2 separate regions of the Homo sapiens genome follow, and region 2 is linked to region 1. A link means that fine-mapping ties the variant in region 1 to the expression of a gene that starts in the linked region. Tissue or cell type: whole blood. Region 1 holds a variant in brackets; the other region holds the start of a gene. All regions are shown on one strand. Distances are between the middles of the regions.

Evidence for each region. PIP is the estimated chance that this variant, and not a neighbour inherited with it, causes the effect.
Region 2: it holds the start of ENDOD1, and the variant in region 1 is fine-mapped to the expression of ENDOD1 in whole blood (TOPMed, PIP above 0.99).

Annotation. Positions count from the first base shown.
Region 1 is chr11:95,149,415-95,157,520 of GRCh38, forward strand. It overlaps LNCRNA-IUR (lncRNA imatinib upregulated), which reads left to right and starts at 1,125. Exons shown (of 3, transcript NR_110303.1): 1 at 1,125-2,334. RefSeq lists enhancers at 911-1,452, 1,453-1,994, 1,595-1,724 and a silencer at 2,245-2,354. The variant T/C (reference allele first, on the strand shown) is at 4,054.
Region 2 is chr11:95,085,005-95,093,110 of GRCh38, forward strand. It overlaps ENDOD1 (endonuclease domain containing 1), which reads left to right and starts at 4,842. Exons shown (of 2, transcript NM_015036.3): 1 at 4,842-5,223. The coding sequence starts at 4,924. RefSeq lists enhancers at 4,244-4,523, 4,594-4,653, 7,921-8,106 and silencers at 4,664-5,093, 7,921-8,106.

The DNA of each region.
Region 1 (8,106 bases):
TTCAATCCTGGGTGGTGGAAAGACTATATATATGTATGTATATATGTATGTATGTATGTATGTGTATGTGTGTATGTATGTGTGTATGTATGTGTGTGTATGTATGTATGTATGTATGTATATGTATGTGTGTATGTGTGTGTGTGTATGTATGTATGTATGTGTGTATGTATGTATGTGTAATTTCTCTATGTCAGACACTGCTGGGTTTGTGCTCCCCTCTATAATCTACTGATTGTGGGACTTCACACGAGGTACAAAACATAAGTGACCTAATAAGCCCTCTAGACAGGGCTTCAGGGAGGAGCCAAGGCTGGCACATAGTCAGAGGGCAGGAAAAGTTCCACTCCCTCCGTGTGATTAGGAGGGCTGCTTTGTTTTCTTCCCAGGCAGAGACCTCAAAGAAAAGTGTGACTTGTGGCAATCATTGGAATGCTCTAACGGGAGGGAGCCCTAAGCTAAGGGGAGGGGCTGTATCAGCCCCGGGAGGGCGAGGGACAAAGGGGCATTGTTTCCCTGGAGGGCAGGCTGGGGCAAGGCTGACTCCACTGCCGGCCTGGGCGTGGGCAGGTTTGCTCCCGGGAGGAGAAGGCCTCCATCCTGGCCCACAATAGCCAACCCAAAACAGTTCTGGCAAAATTAAAAGACGCAGGAAAATGCCAGCGACCGTTTATTTTCTCCTAGGGTAGATGGGGGAGAAAGCAGCTCCTTTTTCTGGGCTGAATGGAGTCTCAGGGAGGGGGCTAGGTGACAGCATCGCCCTTTCCTCTCCGGCTATTGCGCACCTTCTGGAGCCTCGCTCAGCCTGCTCCCTCCGGCGTAATACGCCAATGCTGCTACCCACAACGCACAGACCAGAAACCAGGATAGACAGAAGCCTAGAATGGCCTGGCATCGAGCAGGCCCAGCGCAAACGCAAGGTCTCTTCCTCTCCTTTCGGTGAACCCCACGCCCAGTCCCGAGAGAGAGAGCGGATGCTCATTTCCGAAAGCTGGCAATCCTGCAGTGGCCACTGGAAAAATACATATACGTGTGTGTGTGTGTGTGTGTGTGTGTGTGTGTGTGTGTGCGCGCGCGCGCACACAGTGCATATCGTGCCCATCTACAAGGAAACCTGGAGGCTCCACAAACAACTTTGAGTCCCGGGAGGGCGGAGGTGGAGAGAGATTCTCCGCTTGGATAAGGGCGGCTGGATAGCCGAGTACTCTCTTTTGGGGCTGTTGGCCGTCTCCGGAGTCTCGGGAGCGCCTTGATGTCCCTTCCCAGGGCTCGGGTTCCTTTGAGAGAATCAAGAGGAAGGTGTTTTTCACTAGGACTCGCGGTGGGCCCCACCTGCCTACCGTGGCCGGCCGGGAGCTATTACAGCAGGGTCTGCCCGTCCGACGACGGCGGCTCCAATCTGGGGTCCCGCCGGCGCCGACCCCTCAGCTCTCTCCCGATACCTGCTGGCCTCTCTCATCTTTGGTGGCACTCGCCGCCACGGGGACGGTGAGATCAAAGAGGTAGACCTAGGCCAGGAGGGACTGCCAGGGCTCCTTCCCGCGGGCCAGCCTCTCGTCCTTCCTCCCGGGACGGGGCTCTTTCCCTTTCTCCGGATGCGGGCCTTTGAGAGTCAGCGACGCCTTAGACTCCTCCCAGAAAAATGCACCCTCATCTACCCAATTCTGCCCTACCCTTTGGAGCTCCTGGACCCTCTAACCGCTCGGTGGGGTCAGAGCCCACCCCCGGAAGGGCCGCTGGTCGGGGACTGGTTCGCCCTCTCCTGGCCTCCTCGGACCAGTGCGCGGGGAGGATCCCGCTAACGCCGGGCGCCTGCAGACCTTGAGCGGCCTCGCCCTGGTGACCTCCCCGGGAAAGGCTGGGCGGTGCTTCCACAATGAGGGCCACCTGTTAATTTGCACGAGAAAGTGCTGCCGAGGGCCCACACGTGCGAATCCACCTGTGGAGTGCGTCCCCTCTCTGGGGCCAAGGCCTAGGGGAGGCCGAAGCGGAGAAGTTGCCTGAAGACTGGGAAGTAAGAGTAGGGGCGTCGGAGGAATCGAAGTTGCAGTGACATCAGGCTCGGACAGCCGGCGGACTCCTCGCAAGGTGATCGGATACTTCCGAGAGCCCCACAGTCCTCCTGGGCCTTTGCCCTCGCGTCTGGGATGCGCTCGGGCGCCCCCAGTCTGCGATGCGTTCGTACCTCCAGTAGGGTGACGTTTTCGCCGGGCCCCTCTGCGAACAGTCTCCGCCCTCCTCCACTGTGAGATATTTCACAGTTTCACCCGCAGAGGGCAACCTTATTCCAAGTTCCCGAGCGCCCTAGGCCTCTTTCTCCTCCCTGCCTAACTGGTGAGGTGGGACTTCAATGCCTTTTAGGTTTACAGTCTTTTCCTCCCCACGGCTTCTCTTTCCTCCCCGTCTCAGGCACTGGGCATTTCCAGTCGATCCAGCAGGTCTGGCTTCTCTCACATATGCAGTAAGGGTTAGGGGAGAAGGTCCCAGCTCCTCTTGTCTCTAGCAGAGTGTAAACTGGCTCTGCTGAGGAGGTGGCTGTGCTTTTATTCCTTCTCCTGAGAACTGTTTATATATTAAGGAGCTTCACAGCCTCCAACATAAGGAAAGCAGGTAGGAACTGATCATATAACGCTTTGTAAATGTTTTAGACTTTGGCTTTAATGGGAAAGAAATGGGGAGCCATTCGTGGGTTTTTGAGCAGCAGGTGGACATTGCTTTTCATAATGACCACGCCAGCTGCTGTTTGGAGAATAGACTGTAGGGGTCACTGCGCAAATTGGAGGCCGCGATCCAGGTGAGAACCAGGTGAAACAGAGCTCGGGCCATGGAGTGGCGCTGGAGGTAAGGAGAAACACTCAGACTCTGGGTATGTTTTTTGAAAGTAGGATAAAAGGCCGGGCGCGGTGGCTCACGCCTGTAATCCCAGCACTTTGGGAGGCCAAGGTGAGCGGATCAAGAGGTCAGGAGATCGAGACCATCCTGGCTAACACGGTGAAACCCCGTCTCTACTAAAAAAAAAAAAAAAAAAAAATTAGCAGGGAGTGGTGGCAGGTGCCCGTAGTCCCAGCTACTCGGGAGGCTGTGGCAGGAGAATGGTGTGAACCTGGGAGGCAGAGCTTGCAGTGAGCCGAGATGGCGCCACGGCACTCCAGCCTGGGCGACAGAGCGAGACTCTGTCTCAGTCAATCAATCAATCAATAAAAATACAAAACATTAGCTGGGTGTGATGGTGTGCACCCTTAATCCCACCTACTCGGGAGGCTGAGGCAAGAGAATAGCGTGAACCCAGGAGGCAGAGGTTTCAGTGAGCCGAGATTGCGCCATTGCACTCCAACCGGGGCGAAGATTTACATATATATAAGATTTTCTGTCTGATTGTTTTTTTGGGTATGAGAAAAAGACAGGAATCAGGGATGACTCCAAGCAGCTGGAAAAACGGAGATGCTGCTGGCTGAGATTGGAAGATGCTGGGGTAGAGGGATAAGACAGCTTAATGTTATATATTTTAGGTTTGAGGTGTTCATTAGAAAAACAAGTGGAGAGATTGATTGGGCAGACACACAGGTCTGGAGAGGGCTGGGCTGGAGATAGAAATATGGGTTGCCATGATACAGGCATGGGACTGAAAGCCCCATCAGTCCCTTGGAGAGATCATCAGAGAGTGAGTAGAGACATAGCAGGGCGAAGCCCTGAGCCCCGGTTCCCCCAGCATGTACCTGCAGTCTGTTTCCTCTTCTCAACTACAATTCCCATGGTCTTGTCTTGTTCACAGAACCTGCTCAAGGAGCATCTATTAAATGAAGGAACCCAACTTTCATCACATGTAAAATAAACATCATTATAATCCTACCTCATAAGGTTGTTGTCAGAAAAAGTTAAACGTCGTAATGAAAGTGAAACTGCGTTATGATTGGTAGATGCCTGCTATATTTTAAAATGTAGGCTTCATTATCTCATTCTGTACAGCTTGTATTACTTGATTGTATCTTCACAGTTTCTGATGCATGCAAGGCAGACACTCTCGTTCTCACTTTATTGACGAGGAAAGTAGGA[T/C]TGGTGAGACAAAATAAGTCCCTGAAGCTGCATATCTAATGGTAACACCAGTGGCTGACCTGTTTGAGCACATCTGCGGCAGGCACTGTGTTAATGATTTTGCATGTGTTATCTGGCAACAACACAGCGAGGTGGGGGTTATTATCTTCACTTGCACATGAGGAAACTGAAGCATAGAGAGGGTGGTTAACTTAGCCAAGGTCCCATAGTGAGTGGTTGGAAGAGTCTGGGCCATGAAGCAGACCTGCCCATCCTGATTCAATGTTCTTTTTGCAGCCTGATAGCTCCTCTTCTTCATCCCCCTACTAGACTCCTGCCAGGGCCAAGCCTCACCACTCCTTCCCTTGACATTGGCAACATTCCTCTCTCCTTAACGTTTCTCTCCTACCAAGCCTGCTTGCTGCAGGATACAAGAGTTCAGTCACTCCTTGGGAACAACCTGCAGGTCAAAACATTTTGGCTTATTGCTTCCCCTTTCTGGAAAGTCCTTTCCCTTCCTCTCTGCCTTATGAACTCCTATGTGTTCTTCCAAACCCTGGTGAACTCCTATGTGGTTTTCCAAGTCCAATTAATATGTCACCTCTGTTGTGAAGCTTTCCCTGCTTGCACCAGACAAGAGGCATGACTTAGATCATGTGACACTTTGTTTATAGGTCTATCAAAACAAACTGACAATTTCCTGTGGGTTTGACTGATGCCCCTGTAATATTGTGATTTTTCTCTCAGGTTCTTATATTTTCATGTCTTTTTATCCAACATGCTGTTTGCTTCGTGAATACATAAATGAATGACCCATTTACAATCACTATCAAAGCAAATTTATGGATATCAAATATTCTTCTAGAGATGAGGAAATAGGCTAAAAGGAGTGATTTGCCTAAAGTCACTCAACTGATTAAATACTGGAGCTTTGCTGGGTATGATTATGCGTGCCTATAATCCCAGCTACTCAGGAAGCTAAGGTGGGGGCAGAGGGGGTGGGTGGCAATGACCGCTTGAGCTCAACAGTTTGAAGCCAGTCTGGCTAGCATAGTGAGACTCTGCCTCAAATAAATAAACATAAATAAATAACATAAATATTGCAGCATGAACTCAAGAGAGGTGAGGAGATTTTGTCTGGTGAAACTCAAGATTTCACATGCCTATTGCTTCCCTCTCTGGCATCTAGGGTCCTGGAACCCTCCTCCAAATGCTCCTGCAGGTGGCAACAGAGGCCAAGGAAAGGTGAAGCATTCTGGCAGAAGTTCTGGAGACAGATGAGAAGCTGAGCTCCCTGAGGGCAGGGGCAAGGTGACTTGAAGAAAGCCAGGCCAGAGGGAGCATTTTATGCATCCATCATTTGTAATCCAGAAAGAAAAGGTTTAGACAATTTTAGTGTAACCATTAGTCATAAAATTGACACTGAAGAAAGGAAAAAGCAATTGAAATAAAAGGACAGTAAATAACAAACTATCTTACAGGAAAAGCTACACCATGTGCCCCAAGACACCGAGCTAGAAAGTAGCAGGGGTAGTCAGTATCAGGGCCCATCGCCTCATGTTATCTGCACAGGGGGTCTCTGTCTGATGTTTGGGCACAGAGAAACAAAGTCCAGGTATAGTGCATTAGACAGGACCCAGAGGGTGTTTATGCGTGGACTGATGGCCACCTCGAGGGTCAGAGCTTCTGGCTTATTGTGTCTCCAACTCTGTCCTAATACACATTTTTACCAATGGCTTGCTGGAAAAACAGAGGAAAGGCCCGTGAATTTGCCAAGGAGAGGAAGCTCTGAGTGTTCGCGAGTGCCCATGTGGAGAACAGGGAATTGTACAAGTTCGAGCTGTGTGGGCCAATAGGGAAATGGAACAAAGGGACATTTTACCTTTGTGTTCAAAATAATTAGACAAGGACAGCATGGAAGAGACACGGCTTTAGTAATAGTGTGTGTTGAAAAGAATGGGGCTGGGACATTTATTACAACAACCGACATTTGTGCAGCATTTATGAGGCATTTTCATTACTCCTTATGACACATTAGAAGTGGTAATGGGGAAACCAAGGCTGGGAGTATCTTGTGTAATTAAGCAGCAGAGCTGTAGTGTGAATTGTGTCTCTGTAACCCTGGGGTTACTTCTCTTCTTTTGTTCCCCATCTCTAACCAAGCTGCATGCTCCGCTCGTTCTTTTTTTGTGAATGTCTCTCACCTCCAATGCAGCCATCCATCCTGTTAAAGGAGTGGATTATCCATGTCTTTCTGAGACTATTGTACAACCTCCTCATTTAATCTCATTTCTCTTTCCTCCCATTAATTTTATATATGCCACATGAGCCGGATTACCAGATTTAGCAAAAAGCAAAAACAAAACGCCAAGATACTCAGTTACATTGTTACATTTGAATTTTAAAAATGAATAATTTTTATTATATGGGACATATATTAAAAATTATTTGTTGTTTATCTGAAATTCAAATTTAACTGTGCATTCTGTATTTTATATGGCAACCCTGATAATCATGAAATACCATTTCCATCATTCCAAAAATATCCATTAGTTCCCTGTTACCTGAAGGACAGGGGCCTCAATCTCGAATTTTTACAGGTAGGTAACATAAACATACAAATTAAGTGACTGGGTAAGTGGAGCCTGAAGCTAAATTCAAAATTGAGGAGCAAATGTTCCCTGACCCCAGACATTCCAGTTCAGACTTTAAACATATATAATCAACTCCAATAAAAGCAAAAAAGAAACACACACACACACACACACACACACACTCACACTCACACATCCATAGCCATCAGTGAGTCTGGCTTCTAATCTGAAACCTGGGCTAAACCAAACCACTTGGCCTGGAATTGGAGGCCCCTGATTGGCCTTTCTGCCCTTCACTCTCACCACTCTCCACCATGGGCCCTCCCATCTCTCCTCCACCAGCTCATCATGGATGGCCTCCCTAACCCATAGCCGTCTTCTTACCATGCCAGTCTCACAGGCCACTCAAGTCCACAGTGATCTTTCCCTTTCCATGGTCAATTTTGGCTCCTCTCTGTCCCAGGGACACGTTTAGCGGTCACATCATTTTTCTCTCCAACACCCGAAAGGGAATACAGGAAGTGACTTTGAGAGGCCCTTACCATATGCCAAGTCCCCTAAAAAGATCTTTGCTTATTTTTGTTCCCTCTCTCCTTAGTGAGATGGTGAAGTACTCAAGGGTAACAACCCTGTCTCATACGATTCCAAATGGTATATTGAGCTTTGCTATAACATCCATGCTCAATATATACTTTCTTACTGACAGGTCCAAGAGTGTACAAACTCATGAACTCAATGACCGCAGACTGGAAGTAAAATCACAAACCAGTGCTTCCCCCACCCCCACCCTTCCTTGGTACACCCCTGTCACCTCCCAATTCTGGCTTCAAGCATTTTTCAAGTCTGAGGCTTTAGCCCAAATTTAAGCTTTGGCTTAAATAACGTCTATTTTTTTTTTTTCCAGAGCTGATAAGAACTTACATTTAAAAGATGGTTCTTTTTTTGGTCTCAGTCCTGCTGGGTAGTTGTGCCTTGTTAGAAAATTATCCATAGCACTTTCAAAGTCCTCCTCATGAGCATGTTGAACTGAGCCAGACTTGGAGCTTTGAATGGAATGCCATTTAATCTTGGCAAAGGTCCACCTTTTGTTTCTAAGGAGGGAAAAAGCCTAAGGAACATGGGTGACTTAGGGACCGTTTGCACTTAGACCTGATCTGCTGGGGAAAGGTTCGGAATCCTGGAAATACACAAATTAGACACTGAGCTGGGAAAAAGAAAGAGACAAGCACTGGCCAGGCAACCTTCAGTTTTGCTAACGCCAAAGATTTTAAAAATATCATCCCCTTCTTAGGATTCCTTGGCCTGCCTAGCTATGTTCTGGCTGAGATGTGCTGAGCCGGGCTGGGCTGCCGGCTCCGGGACTGGTTTGTAGCCAGCTGTGCCTTCAAAGAGCTCTCTCTTCAAGACTTCCTCCAACTCTAGATTCCACAACTGCCTCCAGGAGCTGCTGGGCCAGGGAGGGCCCTTCTGGAAGCCTGGT
Region 2 (8,106 bases), 64 kb before region 1:
ATGATTTTCCACCATTCCCATTGTCTTTCCAGAGCTTCTCCGCCTAAATTATACTTCTCTGCAACACAACACACAGTACTTCCCTTATCAGAGCATTTCTCATGCTGTATTGTAATTGCTTGTCTGTCTGTCCTCCGTACCATACTTCAAGTTCTGTGATGCCAAGGTCTGTGTCAGTCTTGCACTGTAATGAAGATGGGTATAGCATGAACTCAATGTTACAGAACTCACTAGCTGCATGAAGATTTCTCTGCTTTGCTCTGCCCTAGTCTAGGGCAAAGCCACTTGCAAATAATTAGCTAGCTTGTGTTTTCTCTTCTGGTTGCCCACATGACACTGAGAGGTGCTGGCCTGAGTGCCAGGAGAGCAGGAACTAGGCTAAACTTTGCTTCCCTTAAATACCCAGCATCTAGTGCCATTGCTGGCTCATGGTAGATGTTCAAAAAACATTCTGAGGATGAATGAATGAATTAGAGCAATGAAGACCCAAATGAAGTTTCATAAAGAAAGTTTCTTTCATTCATCTACTCACTCACTGTATTAGATGCTTACTCTATAGTAGGCACTATGTTCATGACTAAGGGGAAAGGTAGCAGTTACGAAACGGGGTTACTGGCTTAATAGGCATAATTAGAAGGGGCTCTTAACCTCATAGAGGGGAGGAGGGAGTAAAGTTGAGGACATGCTTGTCAGGAAGGTGAGTGATTGAGGAAGTGATGGTCAGCTAGACTATTGGGAAAAAAAAAAAAGCTAGATGAAATGAGTGAAGGGATGAGAATGGGTGGTGAGAATTCCAGGACAAGGGAAGTAGTTTATGATGCAAAGTTTCAAAGACTAGAGAGAGCATCAGGCTGAGTTCAGTGGCTCAAATCTGTAATCCCAGCACTTTGGAAGGCCAAGGCAGATGGATCGCTTGAGCTCAGGAGTTCCAGACCAGCCTGGGCAATATAGCAAAACCCTGTCTTTACAAACAATACAAAAATTAGCTGATGTGGTGGCACACGCTTGTAGCTGCAGCTACTAAGGAGGGTGAGGTGAGATGATCAATTGAACCCATGACATTGAGGCTGCAGTGAGTTGTGACTGCACCATTGCACTCCAGCCTGGGTGACAGAGAGACCCTGTCTCAAAAACAAAACAAAAGAGAGAACACTGTGCATTCATGGAAATATAAGAAGCTGAGCGTGTGGGCAAGGTGGGAGTGGAGAGAGATGAGGCCTGAGAGGGAAAGGCCAGGTCTCTGGGGTCATGGAAGTCAGCTAGTATGTCAGGCTGCATCCCAAGGTAAATGGAGAGTGATTAAGTGCTGTAAGGGTAGGGTGACATCATCAGATTTATGTTAGGAAGTCATCCCAGCTGGAGAGTGGATTAGAAGGGATGACGGGATAAAAACTGGGCATGACAAATGAGGATGGCTTGGTCAAAGGTGTGATGGTAGAGATGCAATTATCATCAGAGCAGTGAGGCAGGGGAAAGAAGTGTCTAGTTGGGCTCATATTTTTAAATAACTTTGGACAGAACCAACCAAGCCACAGAAGTGCATGTCAAATGTTTTATTCCACATCAACCATTACTTTTCATCCTCAAGCCTTTGCTGAAGGCTATGGAACCCAGCTTTGGCTGGGTCTGAGTGCAGAGACCTAAGAGGATCTGGTTTGAAACCTCTTTCCCTGTGAGAAGAGAGTCAGTGACCAAATGTAGAGACAGCAGTGAATTATTGATGGACCTACATGTTTTACACATACAGATGCTGCTAAAGACAGTTTTCCCCTAAAATCAGCAGTTAGCAAATGTTTTAATTAGATCAAGGCATTCCTACCTTGTAGGTTGTTCCAGAATCTTGGGGTGAGAACATTTGTAATTTGCAAAAGTAATATTTTATCTGTGGAAGGCAAGCACATGGAAGAAAAATCTATTGTCTTGTACTATAAACTAAAGAAAATAAACAAAATCATCCTGGCTGTGGGATGTACAAATGTTCAGTGTTATATGTGTGTCAGTCACTGATAGAGGGCTGGGGAAAAAACTAAAGTCTGCCACAGGGACTGAGTGGCAGAGATATTTATGCTTATCAGAGGTGGCGGGCAGGCATCAAGAAATTTTGAGAAAGTGAATTAAAGTCTTATAAATACTTTAGTCATAAAGGCCAATGATGATTGTATTATACTTTCTGCATTTGTTAAAATACAACATAATCATATTTGGCATCTAATCACTCCAGATTTTGTGGTAGCCACTGGGATCCACCAACCACCTTTGTCCCTAGGAGCACATGATTTAATAAAGAAGACAGATACAGGGACTATTAACACTCTACCATGATAAGTATCATAACAGATAAATGTTTAAAGAACTCAGAGAAGAGAGGGATGGATTTCTAGTTGTTCAACTGTGTTTATATATCTTTATGGTAGACATCATAAGTCAACATTGGGGAACCCTATATTCAACCTTATAAAATAATGTAAATATTTTTAAAATCCTGTAAAACCTATAATCCTCCCAGCATCCCAGGAGCAGCATTGTCCCTGTGGGAGGACTTGATTGAAGCCTACAAGGATGAGATGACTGAGATACTAGTACCAGATGATCAGGGTCATCATCCAGATCAAAGGGGACTTCAAGTCTAGCCTCTTCTGTGACATCACACTAAATGTGTCCCCTCCTTTTTTTAAAAAAACTAAGATACAAACTTTGGTTTCATTTCTGGGACCAAACATAGTCAACATTTTCCGGAATTAAAACCTGTAAGAAATTTGTTCTTAAGTTCCAATGTATAATCTCTTGAAGAGCTTCCTTCTTTATGGGCTCACCTTACAGATGCGCTGTGAGTTAAAAGAAAAGGCCAGGCTTGGGAAGCAGAGAGACCTGTTTCAAATCTGTCTTAGGACTCACTGGCTGTGCCAGCTTAGGCCAGAATCAACAGGCTCTGGTCTCAGTCCCTGTAGTGGCACACTGGGGAAACAGATGACATCGTAAGATGAGCACAGGCCCTGGCCCTGGGTAGCTGCCTTGACCCTATCTCTGCTGCCACCATCCTACCATCCTGGTCCAAGCTACCATCTCTTATCTGGATTGTGGCAATTATGGGGTGTTTTTCTTTTCTTTTCCTTTTCTTTTTTGAGACAAAGTCTGGCTCTGTTGCCCAGGCTGGAATGCAGTGGCACAATTTTGGCTCACTGCAACCTCCGCCTCCTGGGTTCAAGCGATTCTCCTGCCTCAGCCTCCCAAGCAGCTGGGATTACAGGTGCCCGCCACCACACCCAGCTAATTTTTTTGTGTTTTTAGTAGAGACGGGTTTCACCAAGTTGGCCAGGCTGGTCTCAAACTCCCGACCTCAGGTGATCCGCCTGCCTCAGCCTCCCAAAGTGCTGGGGTTACAGGTGTGAGCCACCCATTTATTCTGTGCCACTTCAATCTACCAGTCTCTTCCCTGATAGCAAAAAGAATCGAGTCACCACCTTTAAAAGATGAAAATCCTCAACATGATTTACAATATTTTTTCCAAACTGCAGGTCATGAGCCATTAGTGGCTCATAGAAACAATTTAGTGGGTCAACACCAGCACTTTTTTAAAAAAGTGAAGTAGAACAGAAATATGAAATTGCAATGCCAATCATAAGCATAAGAATTATTTCATCAAACTTTTCTCATTATGGGCCTTCTCAAAAAGTGTTTGAAGGCCTCTGGCCTATAATAACCTGAGTAATATGACCCCTGCCTCCTCCTTTAGCCCCACTTCCCATCATCCCCCACGCGGTTCTCCGCGCTTTACCCACACTAGCCTTCCTTAAATTCCTCCAATACATCATGTTCCCTTCTGTGGGAGACCACTTAGCACATGGTTTTCCTCCTTGCCTAGTTAATGTCATCCTCCAGGTCTCAGCTCAGATGCCACTTCTTCAGGCAAACCTTCCCGGATTACATCCTGAACCCCTGTAGCTGTCAGGGTCTCACAGATCTGTGTTCAGTTTTTAGTTATCCCTTTAATAGCATGTTTCCTCGGTTAATGACAAACTTTCCCACTAGGCTGTCTTTGTGACCGCAGGAGCCCTGCTCTTGTTTACCCCTGTGGTAATCCAGTGCCTATCTCAGGCTGGCACCTAGGCATTCAGAGGGATAAATGAAGGAAAGAATTGGCCAACCTGTTGACCAATGACGTTGGCTGGCCTCCTTCCTTGCTTGGTATCGGTTTTGTTTCTAACACTTGCACCAAGAAAACCACACAGGGTTATACTGTCTGCCTAGTTTAGGAACTTCCTTTAACAGTATTTCTTTACTCTCTGAGTTTCTGGTGAGCTAAAAAAACATAACAAAAAACAAAAAACTCCATCAAAATTGTATGCGTGTGCTGGTCGTTGAGTACTTCGGTGGAGAGTGGGAGACGCATCTTCATGAAATTTCAGAGGGGAACTCTGCCCATCCACTCCGAACCAGCCGCAGCTCCACGAGCATCTCACGCCACCCCTCTGCATCACCAGGGCGGCCGTGGGGCGCGCGCGATCAGCAGGCTTCTTGGCGCCCAGTCCATGCGACTATCTCTTCCCAGCCCCGGGACTAGGCCCGCCCCACTCGGATTCTCCACTCTTGGTAGCGCGCGTCCCCCGGACTGCTGAGACCAGGCGGCGCGGAGGCAGGTGACCCGCGTCTCCAGTCCCGGGCGCAGCCCAGGGTACGTTGTCAGCATCGCGGAGCGCGGCCCTGGGCCTCTGCAGCCATCTTCAGGGAGGGAGGCGCGGCCTCCCGACGCGGACCCGCCCCCGCCGCCCGGGCCGCCCCGCCCGGCTCCGCAGAGCGCCGCGCCTAGGTTGCGACTTCCCTTCCCTACCCTGCTCGGCTGCGTAGTGCGCTCCCCGCCCAGCCTGCAGAGCTCGCGCCGCGGCAGCCCAGCCGCTCGGCCCCGCCGCGCTCGCAGAGGCCGCCATGGGCACCGCGCGCTGGCTCGCGCTGGGCAGCCTCTTCGCCCTGGCTGGGCTGCTGGAAGGCCGGCTCGTGGGCGAGGAGGAAGCCGGCTTTGGCGAATGTGACAAGTTCTTCTACGCCGGGACCCCGCCTGCGGGGCTGGCGGCCGATTCCCACGTGAAGATCTGTCAGCGCGCGGAGGGTGCTGAGCGCTTCGCCACCCTCTACAGCACCCGGGACCGCATCCCCGTGTACTCCGCGTTCCGCGCCCCGCGCCCTGCGCCCGGCGGCGCCGAGCAGCGATGGCTGGTGGAGCCGCAGGTAAGCGAAGTGGTTCCCGAGCCGGGCTGCGGGCGCCGGAGACCGTGCCGCTGGACATGCCCCCAGTTGCAGCTACCGCGAGGGGCGGGCCGGGAACAGCAATCCCTACGCCTTCGGTGCCTTGGGCCAAGAAACCCGGGTTCCAGGTCCACCCTGTTGCGTCCCCGGAGTTAGCCTGCCTCGCCCCTGTCGAGCTACAATAAGAGCCTGGCGATCTGCGAGCCTTCACTTCATGAGCTGCAGGGCGGGAGGTCCCCTGTGGGAGGAGGTTCTCCCTGCATTTCTGAGCAGACATCCGCAGTGTTTCATTCCTGAATGGTGAAGAGCTTGATACAGAGACCCTGGAGACCGTTCAGATCCGCAGAAAGCCTAGGCTGGGCGCTCACAGGCCTTCGTGCAACTTATTGCCATAGCACTCATTTGGAGGTGGGTAGGTGGGCATTTTCATCCCCATTTTACAGAAGAGGAGATAAACCCAGGGGGTGAAGAGACATATGGAAGACTACCCAGTTAGTAAGATGGGGCAGGTCTCTGTCTAGAAATTCACTGCCTTTTCTACTAAGTAAAGCTTCTCTTCTGCAGAGCTCATCCTAGCCTGAAAATCCTTCCTCTACCACGGCGTTGAGTAAATTCGATCTGCGGTTGTGTTGAATTAGAACAATGAAATAAAGATACAGATTTTTAGAAACGCAATGGGGTAGTTAAAAATGATAGGGAAACATTGACTACCTCCAACTGATGGAAAGATAAGCCAGTTTTTCCTGACTCCTCATATCTATATTATCATACCACTAGGAAATCGTGTCACCTCTCATGGTGTTCTGTCCCGTCTGGTAAAGGTGACCAAACACTTGAGAAGCCCTCAGAGTCTTCCGAACCTGCTGGCCTGCTCTTAATACCTCTCCTCAGTTGGCCTCCTCTCTAGAACACCCTGCCAGACTCCCCTTTGCCCTCTCACCAGCCTCCCACCCCTGCCCAGGCTGCTGGGGGAAGAACTGACCCAACGCTCTCCCTTTCCTGACGGCCACAGCTGCCCAGGACCACACCAGTGGACAGGAGGCTGGCTTTCAGGTGCTTTATTCAGAGCCTGTGGGTTGTAATCTCATTCAGATATTTCTAGCTCTGAGGTCTTGGCCAGGTCTCAAACAATCTGCACCTAGTTTTCTTATCTTCCTCACATCCTTCCACCTACCTCAACTGTTGATAACACTTGTCGAGATCAGGCATGTGAAAAAGACGTTGTCAGTTGCACACACAAGACACATTTAAATCCAAAATTAGTTTTCCACCAGCTGCACCCCTAGAGCTCACAGGGTGTTCCCCACCTCTCATCTTGCATTGTGATTGTGTGCCTGCGAAGAAAACAAATGAGCTAGTTCTTTCCCCTTGATCTCATGGACAGCTTGGGGAGACAGAACATACGTCTGAGGAAATCATGGGAATGGATGCTAAACAAATTTCAGTTAAATTCAGAACACATTTAGTGACTCCTGCTGTGTGCCAGATATTTGGGACCAAGAGATCTGAGTGCAGTTCTGGAACAAAGGCTACCTGATCTGCAGGTGGAGTTTGCTGGGTGGAGAGGTGGTGTAGTATCTGATTAGAGCCATGCTATGTGGGTTCATATCCTAGTTGCTCCACTGACTAGCTATGAACTTGGGCAGGTTAAATTGGAGATAATAGCATAGGGTGGTGTGAAGATTTAATGAGTTACCATATATAAAGTTCTCAGGTGTGTGACACATGAGTACTAAGTACTAGCTGTTGCTATGACCTAAGCAAAAAACCATAATTTAATAAAGGTGAACAAAGTCCTATTAGATTTAATCTGTCTTTGAGGTGATGGAAGCAAGCCTTAGGGTCAGGATGACATTTCTGCTGTGTGTGGAAAGATAAGGCAGAGTTTAGAAGGGAGGCAAGGAGGAGGACATTTCAAGCAGAGGGAACAAACATCATGAGTGAGAAAGGCATGGCAGATTCAGGGATTTGTGCGTGAAGAAGTTGGAACAGGTAAACTAATACAAATAGATGAATGCACTCAATTGCTCAGAATAAAAAGGAATCATGGAAGGGAGGGATCAGGTGGGGAGGAGCCACCAAGGAAGGCTTAGGGAGGCAGAGCCATTTATGCAGCTAGGGAAGGAGTGAGTCGTAAAGGAGCATAGTTTGACAGAAAGAAGTACAGGGAACCAGGTAACATGGAGACCCTGGGTGAGATAATGAGGAAGGGGACTGTGGAGATTAAAGAAGATGGGAAGGGAGGGTGGAAATAGTTACAAATGGCAGCTTGAGAGGTAAGATGTACAGCGGTTCTGAAGAGTACAAGGGGCCTGAGTTCCTGCTGTGCTGAGAGGTCAGAATGGTCACTGTGGCTGAGCACTGCAGGATGCTTTTCCCTGCAAGGTGGCTGGCCTCCCACATCCACCCGCTCGACCTCAAGTCAAGTCAGCCAGGATCCAGAGAGTATTGGGAGAGAGGGAGGGAGGAGGAGGTGTGAGGTGCAGCTGGGCCTGGAGTGCACTGCAGCAAACCTGCCCCCACTGTTGCCTGCTCCCTGAGGCCCTGCCTCCCAGCCAAGATCCCCACTGCAGAAAGATGCTCAGGGCTCAATGTGTACCCTTGGCGGCTTCCAAGCATTTTATAATGCTGAGTCTCCTTGTACCCACATCACCTTTTTATGAGGTCAGTGTTACCAAGAGGACCCGCACACAGGGGAGGAAGAGGCAGGAGACCAAAGGAACTCAGTGCTTGCCTCCAGTGATGAGTCAGGCAGGGCAGCAGTGACACTGAATTCCCAAAGCCCAGTTCGGCAGCTTTTGAGTCCACACTGCAGTTTCCCTTTGAAAAGAATCTCCTAAGTCAAAGATCACAGAAACTTAGTCA